Regions from separate parts of the Homo sapiens genome. Here region 2 is linked to region 1. Evidence: fine-mapped expression QTL. A gene starts in region 1. The other region holds a variant in brackets. All regions are shown on one strand. Distances are between the middles of the regions. Region 1 holds the start of APLP2 (amyloid beta precursor like protein 2). Region 2 has its middle 26 kb from the start of APLP2.

Region 1 (8,329 bases):
TCAAAAATAAAATAAAAATACACTTCGTAGTTGATTTTGAAAAGCATCCTGATTTGGGAGCAATTATCCTAGCCAACTGTACCTAGCCTGAATAGGTATTGGATAAATAAGTATCAAATTAATGTGAGGGTTCTCCTCATGTTAAGTATACATTTAGGAAAATCAACTTTGTTTTTTTTCAACAAGGAAATGCACACATCTTAAGTGTGCATAGAAGAGAGCTGATTTAGGAGAAAGTCTGATTCTTAAGAAGGTAGAAGAAACATGAGGTTATTTTATTTTACTTTATGTTATTTTTATTTTTGTGAGACAAGAGTCTCGCTCTGCTACCCAGGCTGGAGTGCAGTGGCACAATCTCGGTTCACTGCAACCTACGCCTCCTGGGCTCAAGCAATTCTCCTGCCTCAGCCTCCGAAGTAGCTGGGACTACAGGCGCCTGCCACCACGCCCAGCTTTTTTTTTTTTTTTTTTTTTTTTTTTGTATTTTTAGTAGAGACAGGGTTTCATCATGTTGGCCAGGCTGGTCTGGAACTCCTGACTTCAGGTGATCCACCCGCTTCGGTCTCCCAAAGTGCTAGGATTACAGGTGTGAGCCACTGTGCCCAGCCAGGAGGTTATTTTAGGTCCTTTTGCTTTTATGCATAAAAGATAATAAAATGAAAACATACTACTCATAAGCCTTGGTCACTGACATGAGCATATTTGGAATGAAAAATTATTGAGAATTGCAAGACCAGGTATGTTCCTGTCAGTGTCATTTAATAAAAAGACCATAACATTTTAAAGTACAGAATGTTGATGAATGGGGCTATCAACTCTTAGTAACGATCCTTCCATAACTTGAAAATGCAAATAAACTTCTTTCAAGACCTAAGTTTAGACTGAAGGCCCTCTAAATTATGTTCCTGTATTTCCTTGTACTATCCCATGATATTAAAGCTCAGTCTTGAAGATACAGTCTCCAAAGCATGAATATCCACGCCACTGAACTCAGATATCTCACTTGCTTTTCCCTGAGTTCAAGGCCCTGATTTTGTAGGTGAGGTAACAGGCCCCAGAGGGGCTACATGTCCTACCCTAGGCTCAACAACTCAATGAGGATTTAGGTAGTCACTTGATACTTTTCCCACATACTTGCAGATGAACCTGCACTTAGTAATACATCGCTTTACCCTCCTACCCCTTACATTTAAGTCACTTCATGCTTTTCACTATTGTACATTCATTTTAAGTTCAATCACACAAAGCGGTGCAGTGAGACAGGTTTTAATATTCACATTTGACAGAGAAGAAAAGAGAGTCCCAAGCGATGGAGGAACTTGCCGGTGATCATGCGGCTGTGTCAGTCAGCTCCGGCTGCTGCAACAAAATAACATAGGCTGGGGGGCTTCAACAACAGGGATTTATTTTTCACAGTTCTTGAAGCCTGGGAAGTCCAAGCTCAAGGTGCCACTTTGGCCCCTCAGTGATGGACCTCTTCCTGGTTTGCAGATGGCGGCCTTCTTGCTGTGTTCGCACATGGAGGAGGGAGGTGAGGGCTGAGGTTGGGGGTAGGGGACAGAGAGTGTGAGAGAAAAGCAAGCTCTTTGGTGTCTCTCCTAATAAAGGCACTCATCCCATCATGACCTGCTACCTCCATGACCTCATCCAAATCCGATTACCTCCCAAAGGCCCCATTTACAAATAACCATCACACTGGGGTTCAGCGCTTCGGCACACACATTAGGGGTGGGGACAAAATTCGGTCCATAGCAAGAGCCAAATTCATGCCAGTTCCAGAACTAGTATCAGCACCCAAGATAACTGGGTTCAATAACACTGGGCAAACATTTATCGAGGACTGCACTGTGAGGGGCACTGCGGCATGACAGACCCAAGTCTTGTCAGTGACCTGAGAGAGGTATGGAATAACTAGGGAGCGAGTGCCACAGTGGGAAACATCCCTCTGAGCAATCAGAAGCGATATTTCAGCCGACTGAGCCGAGGAACAGTGAAAACGCTTCCAACAGGCAGATGTTGGGGAGAGGACATTGCAGGCGCAGAAGAGTGTTAGGAAGGGCTGTGAAATGGAAAGGTGTCGTCTTGGAGGAATCGGGCAGAGCCAGTTTACCCACAGGGAACTGGGCATGTAGGGGAGAGTGGTGCAGAATAAGGCTGGAAAATCCCGAGTTCTTACAGGCGCACTCGTCTACTCCGCGGACAGTCTCTTCCTTTCTATTGTCAGCGTCCTGGGGGTAGGGTTGTGTTATGCATTTAGTTGAACCTGAAGGGACTAGTCCAGGTCTCTCAGAAGGCAGTACCTAACTCACAGGCGACTGAAAGGAAACAAGGCCAGCGGAGCCCTGGCGGTGGCGAGGCTGTGCCAATTGCTAAATGGGGCAGCAGGACGTTTTTCTCTACTGAAGTGGCAATGCCGCGGAGCAGGAAGGCAGAGTAGCAGGTCTCCCGCTAGTGCGTCTCAACCGAAGAAGCGGCGTGATCTCTTCCTAAAACACACGAGGAAGGGGGCCTGGGCTGTGAGGCCGGCGTGGTTCTTGCACCCCTGGTCTCTATCCCTGCCTGGGCAACTGCTGGGAAGGAAGGGTCGGCAAGAGGCCTAAAGACCGGAGGCCAAGGGTGCGGAGCGCGGCCGGACTCAGAGGCGAGGACCCGGCGGAGAGGCCTGGGCGGAGCAGGGCGGGAGAGGCGCGCCCTGAGTAGGGCTCGGGGGAGGACGATGGCTGCCTCCTGCGGTCCTCCCCCTGCCTCGGGGGACGGCCCTTGGCAGACCGTCCCGGACTCCTAATTCATCCTGTTTTTAATAAAACCATTTCCAGAATCAAAAAGAGGGCGGTACCCAAAGGAGTCTGAAGAATGCCCAGCAGGGGCAGGGGAGCGGGGCGTGCCCGTATCGGGAGGCTGAAGGCTGACGGACCAGCGCAGCAGGGACAGATAACCGCGCCGGGGGGCGGAGGCCAGAGCCAGCCCCGCGCCCACAGGGTTGCGGCCCCAGACCCGCCGCGCGCACGCCCCCGCGCCTGGCGGCCACAGGGTCCGGAGCGGGGGCGGGGCCATCCGCGGCCGGGGGCGGGGCCGGGCGGGGGGCGCGCGGTTGGACCGGGCGGGAGGAGCAGGCTCTTCCATCTCCTGATTGGGTCTGGACCGCAAGGGGGCGGGGTCTTGAGGGGTTCTGCGGGCCGGCATTGGGAGCCGCAGAAGGAGGGCGTGGTAATATGAAGTCAGTTCCGGTTGGTGTAAAACCCCCGGGGCGGCGGCGAACTGGCTTTAGATGCTTCTGGGTCGCGGTGTGCTAAGCGAGGAGTCCGAGTGTGTGAGCTTGAGAGCCGCGCGCTAGAGCGACCCGGCGAGGGATGGCGGCCACCGGGACCGCGGCCGCCGCAGCCACGGGCAGGCTCCTGCTTCTGCTGCTGGTGGGGCTCACGGCGCCTGCCTTGGCGCTGGCCGGCTACATCGAGGTGGGGACCGGGCGAACGCCGGAGAGTCGTCTCCTTCGCCCGCCGGAGGAGCGCGGACTGCGGGCGGGCAGCGGGGTCCGCGGCAGGGCGGGCCGGCGGTGCGGCGCCGGGGGTCCGGCTCTGCGGCGGGTCTGGCGCGCCCTCCCCCGCCCGTCCCTGCTTGGCGCAGTGCTTAGCGCTGGAGGTCGGGCTGCCTCAGCCGCCGCAGAGGCCAAATGAAAGGCGTCGGGGCTGCTGGGGGCGGCCGTCCGCCTCGGCCGACCCAGCCCCCAACCCGCCCGCGGCGCCGCCACCTCCTCCGGGGACCCAGTGCCCCCGGGCGCCCGCCCCGCCCTCCCCCGGGACAATGCCAGGGCGCTCCTCTCCCGCCGGAGTCCGCGGCTGGGCTTTCTCCAGGGGCGGCCCCGCGCGGACCCCGTACGCTCCCTCGCGCGGCACCGGGGCCTCGGCTCCGGGCCTCCCACCTGCGAGCGGCGGGCTTCGCCTTTGTTGCCAGGTGGACGCGGCCCCGGCCTTCGCGCGCGGCAGGGATGCTGCGAGCCCCGGGGGAGCTCCCGCGCCAGGCCGCCCGCTGCTCCCTCTGCCGCCTGGGGCCGGGTCGCGGACGCGCATTTTTTAAGTGGCGCTGTTTGCCTGCGTCCGTAGACCGAGGAAACCCGCTCTGGGTGCGTTGACCGCTTTCGTGAGGGTTTCAGTGAGTAGGGAAGGTGCCCGCGAAGGCGTGTAAACTGTTGGAAAAATCGTCCTCTTCGGGTGTCAGAATTCCATCAGTGGTTGTGCTTCGAGGTCGCACCCTGAGCATCCCCGCTGCGAGAAAGGCGAAGCGGCAGGGCCGGGGGTTGGGGAGGCCGCGGGAGGGGGCGGGGGCGGCGGGGTCCGCGGTGCGGGCCGGAGCGGGCAGCCTTGGAGGAGCCCTGCTGTGGCCGAGGGAGACGGCGAGCTTGATCTTTACTTCCCTTCTCGAAGTGGTGCTTGAACTGCTGGTCTGGAATGTGTAGTTCTGGTGTCGTTTATTTCTTCTCCCTCTTCGCTCTTTTAAAAATTACAACTGGTTTCTGCATACTTAGCTAATTTCAGAGAGACCTGAAGACTGGATTTGATTGGGCATTAATTGAGAGCTTTCTTTTAAAGACCTCAGGTTTAGAATATATTTACTTCTACAGAATGTTCAAGTATTTCCACGGGTAAAAATAAATCTAATAAAAAGCCTCTCTGATGGAACGGCTTAACACCTTTGTATTCATCCAGTTTAAAGCTTTGTGACTGTGAGGGTAAGAAAGGAGTTCAGCTTTAAAGAGAAATAGTTAACGTTTATCTACAGAGGATTTTGGATTGCGATTGTTTCAGTGTGTCCACACAATGGTCAGAGTTGTATCTGTGATCCCTGATATGTCGCATGAAAACAGCTAGGTGAGTGAGATGGGAAGAAAAAATAAAGGCTTTCGTATGGAAGATGGGACTTCACTAGTGGGTCGGGTGTCAGAAACCATCGTTCACACTCGCACTCCACTTCCCACTGCTATGACTAATTTGAGGCATTAGTGAATTCACAGTAGAAGACTCAGCAGTTTTAAAGAATTCGTTAATACTTGTGTAGCGGGAAAAAATAATATGAGAATTCATTGTTGTGTGTTAAATTTGATTGTTAGCCACAGCGTTGTTCAGTTGAAAAGTATGGTTGAAGAAAGTAGGAATTAAACATTTCTGAAAAATGGTTTTATGGTAACTCCTGTTCTTTGGAGCTGTATTTTTGCTCACACTTACTAAATGATCTTTCAAGGGGCCTTTTGTCAAGCTATCAGAATTTTATTCATATGAATATAATTTGATTTTGTTTATTTGCTGTCAGGCAAGGGACTGTCGAAGCTTAATTTAGATGAGAGTGGCCTAAATCAGGATGTCTTTGGGAAGGCCCTGATTGAGATTAGCGAAAGGGATTCTGGCCAAATCCCTGATCAAGTTGCTTGGCACAGAATTATTGATTGGCAAATCTTTAGTGTTGCTTGGTGTTGACTGAATTAATCTCTTACACCTGTTTAAAAAGAAAAAGCTCACCTCTGGACTCAGGGTCACTTCCTCTCTTAAATCCGAGACAAGTTCTCCTGTGTGCATGCTCCCATTTGGGACTGAGACAGTATTGTGCTGAAACCCCGCATACTGTGCAGTGGATGACTAGGCTCCTGAGAACCGGAACTTGAGTTTGTTCTGTCACATTTGAAAGAAAGAAGGCCATTTGATTGCCAGTTTTCTGGAAACTCAAACCCAAATTAAAGGATGTCAACTGAGGCAGAGTAGAGAAGGCTTTGTGTTGGTGTTTCTGACAGGTGGTATGGGAGATGTGTAATTGTACCTTGGAGAGAAACCTTGGTGTGCTTCTGATAGGAATATCGTCTTTTTTTTTTTTTTTTTTTTGATACGGAGTCTCGCTCTGTCCCAGGCTGGAGTGCAATGGTGGGATCTCTGGGCTCACTGCAACTTCCGCCTTCCGAGTTCAAGCGATTCTCCTGCCTCAGACTCCCAAGTAGCTGGGATTGCAGGCGCCTGCCACCACGCCCAGCTAATTTTTGTATTTTTAGTAGAGACAGGGTTTCACCATGTTGGCCAGGCTGGTCTGGAACACCTGATCTCAGGTGATCCACCTGCCTCGGCCTCCCAAAGTGCTGGGATTACAGGCGTGAGCCACAGCGCCCGGCCCGTTATTTTTATCATAACTATGTTTTAAAAATCTTTTGATAAATACGATAAACTTCAGTTTTATCAATTAGTTCCTCCTTTTGTAGAGGGAATTTGTTTTACCATCTAAAGCCAGGCTTTCCCAGGGTGTAGCCACAAGCCACATGTGGTTATTGAGTCTGTAGGGTGACTAGTGTGAATGAGGAGTGAATTTTTCATTTTATTTAATTTTAATTAATTTAAGTTTACATTTAAAATCTGATTCAGTGGTTGGAAAACTTTTAACTGAAATAATTTGGTTATGCGAATTTACTTTTAAACTGTACATTTTATGAAATCTAAATGTAGATCAAGTATTTCCTATGAAAATTTAGCTTCTGAATTGAGATGTACTGGAAGTGTAACATACACATCAGATTTTGAAGATTTAATACAGAAGAATTAAAATCTCAATTTTTGTATTGACTAAATTGAAACAATACTTTAGACATGGGCTAAATAAAACATTAAAATTAATTTCACTTGTTTCTTTTCACTCTAATATGGTTCCTAGAAAATTTAATACTATGTATGTGGCTCACATTGTATTTCTGTTAGATGGTGCTGATTTAAAATTTTGCTTAAAGTTGGTCCTGCATATGTTTTTATTAGCAGAATTTTTTAATATGTTCCTATATTTTTCCACATAAAGTCTTGCTGGAAGTTGGCCCAACATGCTCTTAAGTATTTTTGTTAGAACAATTTTGAATGTGTTGATTTTTAAACTTTTTCAATTAAAAATGTTTTACTTAGAAATAACTTTAATCACCAGGCGCGGTGGCTCACGCCTGTAATCCTAGCACTTTGGGAGGCCGAGGTGGGTGGATCACGAGGTCAGGAGTTCGAGACCAGCCTGAGCAACATGGTGAAACTCCGTCTCTACTAAAAATACAAAAATTAGCTGGGCGAGATGGCGTGCGCCTGTAATCCCAGCTACTCAGGAGGCTGAGGCAGGAGAATCTGGGAGGTGGAGGTTACAGTGAGCCGAGATCACACCACTGCACTCCAGCCTGGGCAACAGAGCGAGACTCCATCTCAAGAAAACAAGAATAAAAAAAAGAAATAACTTTAATCTTATAAAAAATGCAAAAATTGTACAATTTTCTTACCCTTTACTCAGATTCACCAATTGTTAACATTTCTTCTAGTCACATTTGCTTTACTACTGCATTTTTTGCCAAATTATTTGAGAGTAAGTTGCATACGTCGTCCCCCATCCCCTTTACCCCTGAGAACTTCAGTATATATTTTCTAAGAGCCAAAGACATTGTCTTACATAGGCTTAGTACAGCCATCAACCTAATGAAATTTAACATTGATACAATACTTGGATCTTATCTGCTGTCGGTTTTCTAGTTAGTTTGTTGACCCAATCATGTTCTTTATAGCATTTGAAAACATGTTTTGTTGTTGTTGTTGTTGTTTTGTTTTTCTTTTTTGAGTTGGAGTCTCACTCTGTCGCCCAGGCTGGAGTGCACTGGCATGATCTCGGCTTACTGCAACCTCCGTTTTTCAGGTTCAAGCGACTCTCCTGCCTCAGCCTCCAGAGTAGCTGGGACTACAGGAGCCCACCACCATGCCTGGCTCATTTTTATATTTTTAGTAGAGACAGGGTTTCACCATATTGGCCAGGCTGGTTCCAAACTTCTGACCTTGTGATCTGCCTGCCTTGGCCTTCCAAAGTGCTGGGATTACAGGCGTGAGCCTCCACACCTGGCCCCTTTCAAGATTGTTTAATTCTGTTTACCCTTACTAAATTTTGAGGCTTTTGGATTTTCTTTCTAAAATAACAGAAGAAGAATTCTATAGGTAGTACATATTCATTGTAAGAAATTTAAAAGTACAGATAACCAATAAGAAGTGAAAAATGACCTAAAATCTTATTCCCCAGGGAAACCTTACTGTAATATTGTATATACCCTTCTGTTAATAGATAGGTCATGTACATAAATTTTATAAAAATGGCACATACTGCATATTGAAGCCAGCACCTAACAATGATTATTTCGAATTATGCTAACATGAACTACTCAAAGAAAATAATGTTTTCCGTGTGACAAAAAGTAGGGGTAAATCTTTGTACAGTAATTGTAGTTTCCATGGAGGGGCCAGTTGAGAGAGAATTCTAAATTGCCTATAATTCAATTTTCATGGGTTGATTT
Region 2 (8,329 bases), 27 kb before region 1:
GGCATGCACCACCATGTCCAACTAATTTTTGTATTTTTAGTAGAGACGGGGGTTTCACCATGTTGGTCTGGCTGGTCTTGAACTCTTGACCCTGTGATCCACCCGCCTCAGCCTCCCAAAGTGCTGAGATTACAGGCATGAGCCACCGGCTCAAAGCAGTGTTTCAGAAACTTAAGTCTTTCAAATGCCACTTTCACTATTTTTTTTTTCCATAATGGCTACTTACCACCTGTACAATCAATTGTTAACCTAACGTTTTTATTTAAACCCACTTGGTTTTTAAAAAACTTATAAATGAGGCCAGGTGCTGGTGGTTCACACCTGTAATCCTAGCACTTTGGAAGACCAAGGCAAGTGGATCACTTGAGCTCAGGAGCTCAACACCAGCCTGGGCAATATGGCGAGACCCCCATCTCTGCAAAAAATGCAAAAATTTGCCGCGGGAGGCTGAGGTGGGAGGACTGCTTGAGCCCAGGAAGTCGAGGTTGCAGTGAGCCACGATCGTGCCACTGTACTCCAGGCTGGGTGACAGAGTGAGGCCCTGTCTCAAAAAACAAACAAAAAACCTTACAAATAAAAAACAGATTTTAGGCCAGGCACAGTGGCTCACGCCTGTAATCCCAGCACTTTGGGAGGCCGAGGCGGGCGGATCACGAGGTCAGGAGATCCAGACCATCCTGGCTAACACGGTGAAACCCCGTCTCTACTAAAAATACAAAAATGTAGCCGGGCATGGTGGTGGGCGCCTCTAGTCCCAGCTACACGGGAGGGTGAGGCAGGAGAATCGCTGGAACCCGGGAGGCAGAGGTGGCAGTGAGCTGAGATTGCACCACTGCACTCCAGCCTGGCAACAGAGCGAGACTCCGTTTCAAAAAACAAACAAACAAACAAACAAACAAACAAACAAACAAAAAACACCGATGTCTATGGTAAATGGAAAGTCACTACAGTCACGCGCCAGATAACGTTTCAGTCAACTACAGGCCGCGTATGCGATGGTGGTCACGTAAGATTATAGAGGGGTCTTTCCTTTCTGCGCCCCGGGAGACCTCGGCGTTGCCACGGGCTGCGCCCCCGGTGTTGCTGGAACTGCAAGAACGAATTTGCACCCCAAGCCTCGGTTCCGCTGGGGGCTGGGGAGTGTCCCCGAGGCCAACACGTGTATCTTTGACCTGGGACGGAAGAAGGCAAAAGCCTTCCCCCTCTGGCCACATGGTGAGATCCCTACCTGGTGTCGGATGAACGCGAGCCGCTCCACTCTGCAGCCGGGGAAGCTGCGCACATTTATGTCAAGCGCACGGTCAAAGTGGTGGCCGGGACGCTCTCACCTCCCAGGGCTTCCCCACCCCGTCCGCGTCATCCTCAATACAAGGTCTCGTCCTGCGCTGGGGCTGCAGGCTCCAGACAGGCCTGCAGGTGCCTGTGGAAAGCCCCCGCGGCCGGGGCCAGGTTCGCAGGGGCCGGGTTGTCAAGTCCGTCCGCACCAAACCGCGGAACACGGAGCACATGACTGTGCAGGGCCAAGGACAGGTTCCCGGCGCCAGAAGACCCAGGTGTCGGAGACTGGGCTTTGCCACCTTCGATTCGGATGAATTTGAAGACATGTGGCTGAGAAGCGGCTCATCCCAGATGGCTGTAGGGTCCGATACATCCCCACTCGCGGCGCCCTGGGCAAGTATCGGACTCTGAGCTCATGAGAGATTCCACTGTGCTGTCCCCTCCTAATGCTCATTAATAAATCCTACTTCCTGTCAAAAAAAAAAATTGGCCCAGCGCGGTGGCTTACGCCTGTAATCCCAGCACTTTGGGAGGCCGAGGCGGGCGGATCACTTGAGGTCGGGAGATCGAGACCAACCTGACCAATATGTTGAAACCCCGTCTCTACTACAAATACAACAATTAGCTGGGTGTGGTAGCGGTCGCCTGTAATCCCAGCTGCTGGGAAGGCTGAGGCAGGAGAATCACTTGAACCTGGGAGGCAGAGGTTGCAGTGAGCCAAGATCGTGCCACTGCACTCCAGTCTGGACTACAGAGAAAGACTCCGTCTCAAATAAAAAATAAAAATTTAAAAATTTTTCAAAAATTTAAAAGTTAATGTATTATTGAAGAAATAAAATTTTTAAAATAAATTTAATGTAGCCTAAGTATAGTGCACAGAATGCCCCAGGCCTTCACATCGCCTCACTGCCCGCTCATTGACTCACCCAACTTCCAGTCCTGTAAGCTCCAGTCATGGAAAGTGCCTAGACAGGTGTTCCTTTATAAAAAAAAACTTTCTTTTTTTTTTTTTTTTTTTTTTGAGACGGAGTCTCGCTCTGTCGCCCAGGCTGGAGTGCAGTGGCGCGATCTCGGCTCACTGCAAGCTCCGCCTCCCGGGTTCACGCCATTCTCCTGCCTCAGCCTCCCGAGTAGCTGAGACTACAGGAGCCCGCAACCACTCCTGGCTAATTTTTTGTTTTTGTTTTTGTTTTTGTTTTTTAGTAGAGACGGGGTTTCACCGTGTTAGCCAGGATGGTCTCGATCTCCTGACCTCGTGATCTGCCGGTCTTGGCCTCCCAAAGTGCTGGGATTACAGGCGTGAGCCACCGTGCCCGCCCCCAAAAAAAGTCTTTCATTTGGCATTTTTACTGTACCTTTTCTATGTTTAGATACACAAATACTTACCATTGTGTTACAATTGCCTGCAGTATTCAGCACTGTGCGGTATACACGCAGGAAGGTAGCCTGGGAACCATAGGCTGTATCATACAGCCTGGATGTGTAGTAGGCTGTGCCATCTGGGTTTGTGTAAGTGCACTCTAGGATGTTTGAACAATGATGAAATCACCTGATGATGCGTTTCCCAGACATATCCTGTTGTTCAGCAACGCATGACTGTACAGTGTACAGTGAAAATAAGCACGAGGAAGGCCAAATGGTCTTAGTTTGTGGATGGATGCTGTTGCCTAAAGAAGGCTTGCTCTCTCTCTGAGTAGGGACAGAAAGGAGGCTAAGCGTGAGAGAGGCGGCTTTGCCATACTAGATGCAATCACACTGGAGACCGGGGTCCACGGTCGAGAACAGAGAAGCGCTTTCGCATTTCCCGCTGTTCCGCAGAGCTGAAAGACTGAGGCCAGACACCTCCTCAGGGCTTATCACGGTGGCTCACCTGCTCCTGCGGCTTCATCATCATCCAGTCAGAGTCCGTGGAAGCGGAGCTGGAGATGCTGGGGATAGGGGTTGGGGTCGGGTGGCAGGTAGCATGACGTGGAGGTTCAGTGAGGGGCCTGGGAGAATTGCTGAGAATGGGATAGTCCGAAAGGCGCGGCTCGCAGCCTGTGGAGTGTGAGGGGACCTGGGGAGCCCAGTGTGCACCCCGTAGAGTTTGGATGTGTATGACCCTAATCGTGACCCCTAGGAATGGGAGCTGAGGGACAGTTGAAGTGGTCAAGCCCTGGTGACCCTCCCATGTCGGGGAACTGCACAGCTCACCAAAAAACTCACCCTCACACTGCCATGAGAGTCTGAACTCGGATTCCTGGACAAGCGGGCATCAGCAGCCAGGGAGGGGCCGTGCGGCCCAGAGAGGACCACAGGGCATCTCTTGTGGAGGGGGGCATGTGTTCCCTTCCCCGGAGGAGAAAGGAACCTAGAGGGATGCAGAAGGGCACCAGGCAAACACTAATTTGGATATGAAATTAAAAATTTAAACGACACTGGCTTTTTCTGGTAACTAAAACTGATCAGATATTTATGGGCTCTGCCCAAGAGGTAGTTAAGAGAAACTTACCTTTCCTCAAGTTAATGGCTTACCAAGAATATGGGAAATATTTGGAAAGAGGGAATAATCTTTCTTCCCTACAATGAGAGAGAGATTGAGTATGTGGAAGGTGGTAGTTAAAGAAAGTGAAATATTTCTTTTGCTACTCCATTTGATTCAGACTGTTCAGTCAATTGGGGAGAGAAGGATTAAAACAATTTCAAAATATTTCATTTTTGTACCCTGCCATTCAACTAATGCCTGTTATTGTAATATCTAAAATTATCTTTGATATCTGCTATATTTTGGGAAACTCTGCTCTAGGGGAAGTGAAGAGTTGCTCCCGGCCCCACCCTCCAACCCTGGGGTTGCCAGCGAAGGTACTGAAAGATGTGGGGTAGAATGGTGTCTAACCTGTTTCTCTTCTCAATCTTCAGCAACCTTTGTCTACCTTTTATACTTGACCAAAATGACCATTTTCTCTCCATTTATATTTTCCTCTCTTTTTAACCACAGAGCCACCAGCGTTCCAGCTTGTTATTTCCTCTTTCTGTTTTCCTCATTTGCTCTGTTTCTCTTCCCTCTTCCTGATTTCTTGATGCTTGCCTTTCGTTGGTCAGCAAGGGAG[A/T]AGTTTGCCCAACAGACTTTACTCTCCACTGACCGTTCTTAGGGCAAAATGAAAACCCCAGGCTGGAGCTGCCCAAGGCACTGTGAGAGGCAGTGCATCAGCCGGGTGCAAAATCTCCCGCCTGCAAAGCCAGGGGTGAAAGCCAGGCTGTGATTTCAGGTTCAGCCTCTTGTTAACTATTCAGCCTTGGGCAAGTCTCAACTTCTTTTTTTTTTTTTTTTTTTCCCAAGGAAGAAGAATTTTTCTTAGTACAGCACAAAATGAAAAGTCTCCCATGTCTACCTCTTTCTACACAGACACGGCAACCATCCGATTTCTCAATCTTCTCCCCACCTTTCCCCCCTTTCTATTCCACAAAACCGCCATTGTCATCATGGCCCGTTCTCAATGAGCTGTTGGGTACACCTCCCAGACGGGGTGGTGGCCGGGCAGAGGGGCTCCTCACTTCCCAGTAGGGGCGGCCGGGCAGAGGCGCCCCTCACCTCCCGGACGGGGCGGCTGGCCGGGCGGGGGGCTGACCCCCCACCTCCCTCCCGGATGGGGTGGCTGCCAGGCAGAGGCGCTCCTCACTTCTCAGATGGGGCGGCCGGGCAGAGACACTCCTCACTTTCCAGACGGGGTGGTGGCCGGGCAGAGGGGCTCCTCACTTCCCAGTAGGGGCGGCCGGGCAGAGGCGCTCCCCACATCTCAGACGATGGGCGGCCAGGCAGAGACGCTCTTCACTTCCCAGACGGGGTGGCGGCCGGGCAGAGGCTGCAGTCTCGGCACTTTGGGAGGCCAAGGCAGGCGGCTGGGAGGTGGAGGTTGTAGCGAGCCGAGATCACGCCACTGCACTCCAGCCTGGGCAACATTGAGCACTGAGTGAGCGAGACTCCGTCTGCAATCCTGGCACCTCGGGAGGCCGAGGCAGGCAGATCACTTGCGGTCAGGAGCTGGAGACCAGCCCGGCCAACACGGCGAAACCCCGTCTCCACCAAAAAAATACGAAAACCCGTCAGGCGTGGCGGCGCACGCCTGCAATCGCAGGCACTCTGCAGGCTGAGGCAGGAGAACCAGGCAGGGAGGTTGCAGTGAGCCGAGATGGCAGCAGGACAGTCCAGCTTCAGCTCTGCATCAGAGGGAGACCGTGGAAAGAGAGGGAGAGGAGGGAGAGGAGGGAGAGGAGGGAGAGGAGGGAGACGGGAGAGGAAGTCTCAACTTCTTGAATGATGTTTCTCCATCTGTTAGGTGGGATTAATAATAATACCTGCTTCCTAGACTTCTTAGGAAACTCAAATGAGGTGACATGAAAATACACATCATAGATTTCTAGAAAAAAGTTTCCTTTTATTGTTATTATTTTATTTATTTATTTATTTATTTATTTATTTATTTCCAGAGATGGAGTCTCACTCTATCACCCAGGAGGCAGGAGTGCAGTGGTGCGATCTCGGCTCACTGAAACCTATGCTTCTGGGGTTCAAGTGATTCTCCTGCCTCAGCCTTCCAATTAGCTGGGACTACAGACGCAAGCCACCATGCCTGGCTAATTTTTCGTATTTTAGTAGAGATGGGGTTTCACCGTGTTGCCCAGGCTGGTCTCCAACTCTGGAGCACAGGCAATCTGCCTGCCTTGGCCCCCCAGATTGCTAGGATTATAGGCGTGAGCCACCACGCCCAGCCATGCTGGTGGTTTTTGATGGAACGTTTTTTAAAAAATAATTTTTCTTTTTCTTTACTTTTTTATTTTTTAGAGACAGAGTCTCACTCTGTTGCCCAGGCTGGAGTGCAATGGCAAGATCTCAGTTCACTGCAAACTCCGCATCCTGGGCTCAAGTGATTCTCCTGCCTCAGCCTCCCGAGTAGCTGGGATTACAGGTGCCTGCGACCATGCCCCGCTACATTTTGTATTTTTAGTAGAGGTGGGGTTTCACCATGTTGGCCAGGCTGGTCTCGAACTCCTGAACTCAGGTGATCCACCCACCTCCGCTGCCCAAAGTGCTGGGATTATAGGCGTGAGCCACTGTTCCCGGCCAAAAAAATAATTTTTCTTTTTTTTTTCAGACAGAGTTTTGCTCTTGTCGCCCAGGCGTAGTCCAATGGCACCATCTTGGCTCACTGCAACCTCCGCCTCCCGGGTTCAAGCGGTTCTCCTGCTTCAGCCTCCCAAGTAGCTGGGACTACAGGCATGTGCCACCACACCCGGCTAATTTTTGTATTTTTAGTAGAGACGGGGTTTCGCCATCTTGGCTAGGCTGGTCTCGAACTCCTGACCTCATGATCCACCTGCCTCGGCCTCCCAAAGTGCTGGGATTACAAGTGTGAGCCACCGCACCCGGATTTTTCAAAAAATAATTTTTCTAATTAAGATATGTGTATATGTTTTAACATCTTTCAGAAACATAAAATTGAATGAAAAGAGTAATTTGCAGAAACACATGCAATATAATTTATTGTGCATTTTTAAACACACAAAGCAGGACTACATGATGTTCATGTGTGCGTGTGTATATATATATATATTTAAACACACAGACAGGCCGGGCATGATGGCTCACGCCTGTAATCCCAGCACTTTGGGAGGCCAAGGCAGGTGGATCACCTGAGGCCAGGAGTTCCAGACCAGCCTGGCCAACATGGAGAAACCCCCTTGCTACTAAAAATATAAAAAAAATTAGCTGGGTGTGGTGGCGGGTGCCTGTAATCCCAGCTACCCAGGAGGCTGAGGCTGGAGAATCTCTTGAACCTGGGAGGCGGAGGTTGCAGTGAGCTGAGATTGTGCCATTGCATCCCAGCCTGGGCGACAAGAGTGAAACTCCATTAATAAAATAAAATAAAATAAACACACAAAGCATATGCTTCTTCTTATCTATATTACTTATATATATGCTTTTGTAATATATATGTGTATATTACATATGTGAGCATATAATTACATATATACATGCTTTGTGTGTTTTAAAATGCACAATAAATGCATATATATATATACAGAAAATAATCACACACACGCACACACATGTGCGTGGGAAAAGTACTTAGAATGGCAGCTCTTGGGGCAGAATGAAAACCTAAGACCAGGGCTACCTAAGACACTGTGAGAGGCAGTGAATCGGGGTACAAAATCTCCCACCTGCAATGGGTTGGAAAAAAGATAGGAAAACATTCTAAATTCACATTAAAGATTGCTCCTGGGGAGAAAGTGCAATGGCACTGGGGAAGGGTACACAAGGGGCTTCAGCTATAGCTATAGTGTTTTATTTCTTTCTTCAAAAAAGGAAATGTGTAAAACAAATATAACAAACTGTGAACAACTAACTGTTCCATCTTGATGGTAGGCACGTGTTTACTGTATTATTTTCTGTGCTTTTCCCTATTGAAAAAATGTGTTCTTAAGAAATGTTTTAGGGCCATTTGCAGTGGCCCATAATCCCAGGGCTTTGGGAGGCCAAGGTGGGAGGATCACTTGAGGCCAGGAGTTCAAGTCTAGTCTGGGCAACATAGTGAGACACTTGACCCTTGTCTCTACAAAAAAAAAAAAAACAAAAACACCTTTAACCAGACATCCTAGCTGTTCAGGAAGCTGAGGCAGGAGTATCACTTGAGCCCAGGAGTTCAACATTACAGTGAGTCGTGATCAAACCACTGCACTCCAGCTTGGGTAACAGAGCAAGACCTTGTCTAAAAAAAAAAAAAAAAAAAAGTTTCAGCTCAATGCTAAAAATCTGGAGAAAACAAAATGATAAAGGCAATAATAACAATAACCTAACTAAAATAATAGAAATAACAACTATAAACATTTTTGATGTACATACCTCTCATCTTTTGTGTTTATTTATACATACAAGTGCAGTTTTAAAACAATTGAAGCCTGGGTGCAGTGGCTCACACCTGTAATCCCAACACTTTGGGAGGCCGAGACTGGTAAATCTTTTGAGGTCAGGAGTTCGAGACTAGCCTGACCAACAGGGTGAAACCCCCAC

What was found.
Region 2: its variant is fine-mapped to the expression of APLP2 in whole blood (TOPMed, PIP above 0.99).

What each region holds. Positions count from the first base shown.
Region 1 is chr11:130,066,628-130,074,956 of GRCh38, forward strand. APLP2 (amyloid beta precursor like protein 2) reads left to right here and starts at 3,267. Exons shown (of 17, transcript NM_001142276.2): 1 at 3,267-3,455. The coding sequence starts at 3,351. It overlaps LOC107984432 (a long non-coding RNA gene), which reads right to left and starts at 3,022. Exons shown (of 2, transcript XR_001748444.2): 1 at 2,837-3,022; 2 at 1,251-2,486. RefSeq lists enhancers at 1,958-2,458, 2,459-2,959 and silencers at 2,876-3,105, 3,496-3,625, 3,696-4,155.
Region 2 is chr11:130,039,375-130,047,703 of GRCh38, forward strand. No RefSeq gene overlaps it. Among named protein-coding and RNA genes, the nearest start is that of APLP2, 26 kb to the right of the region's middle. The variant A/T (reference allele first, on the strand shown) is at 4,368.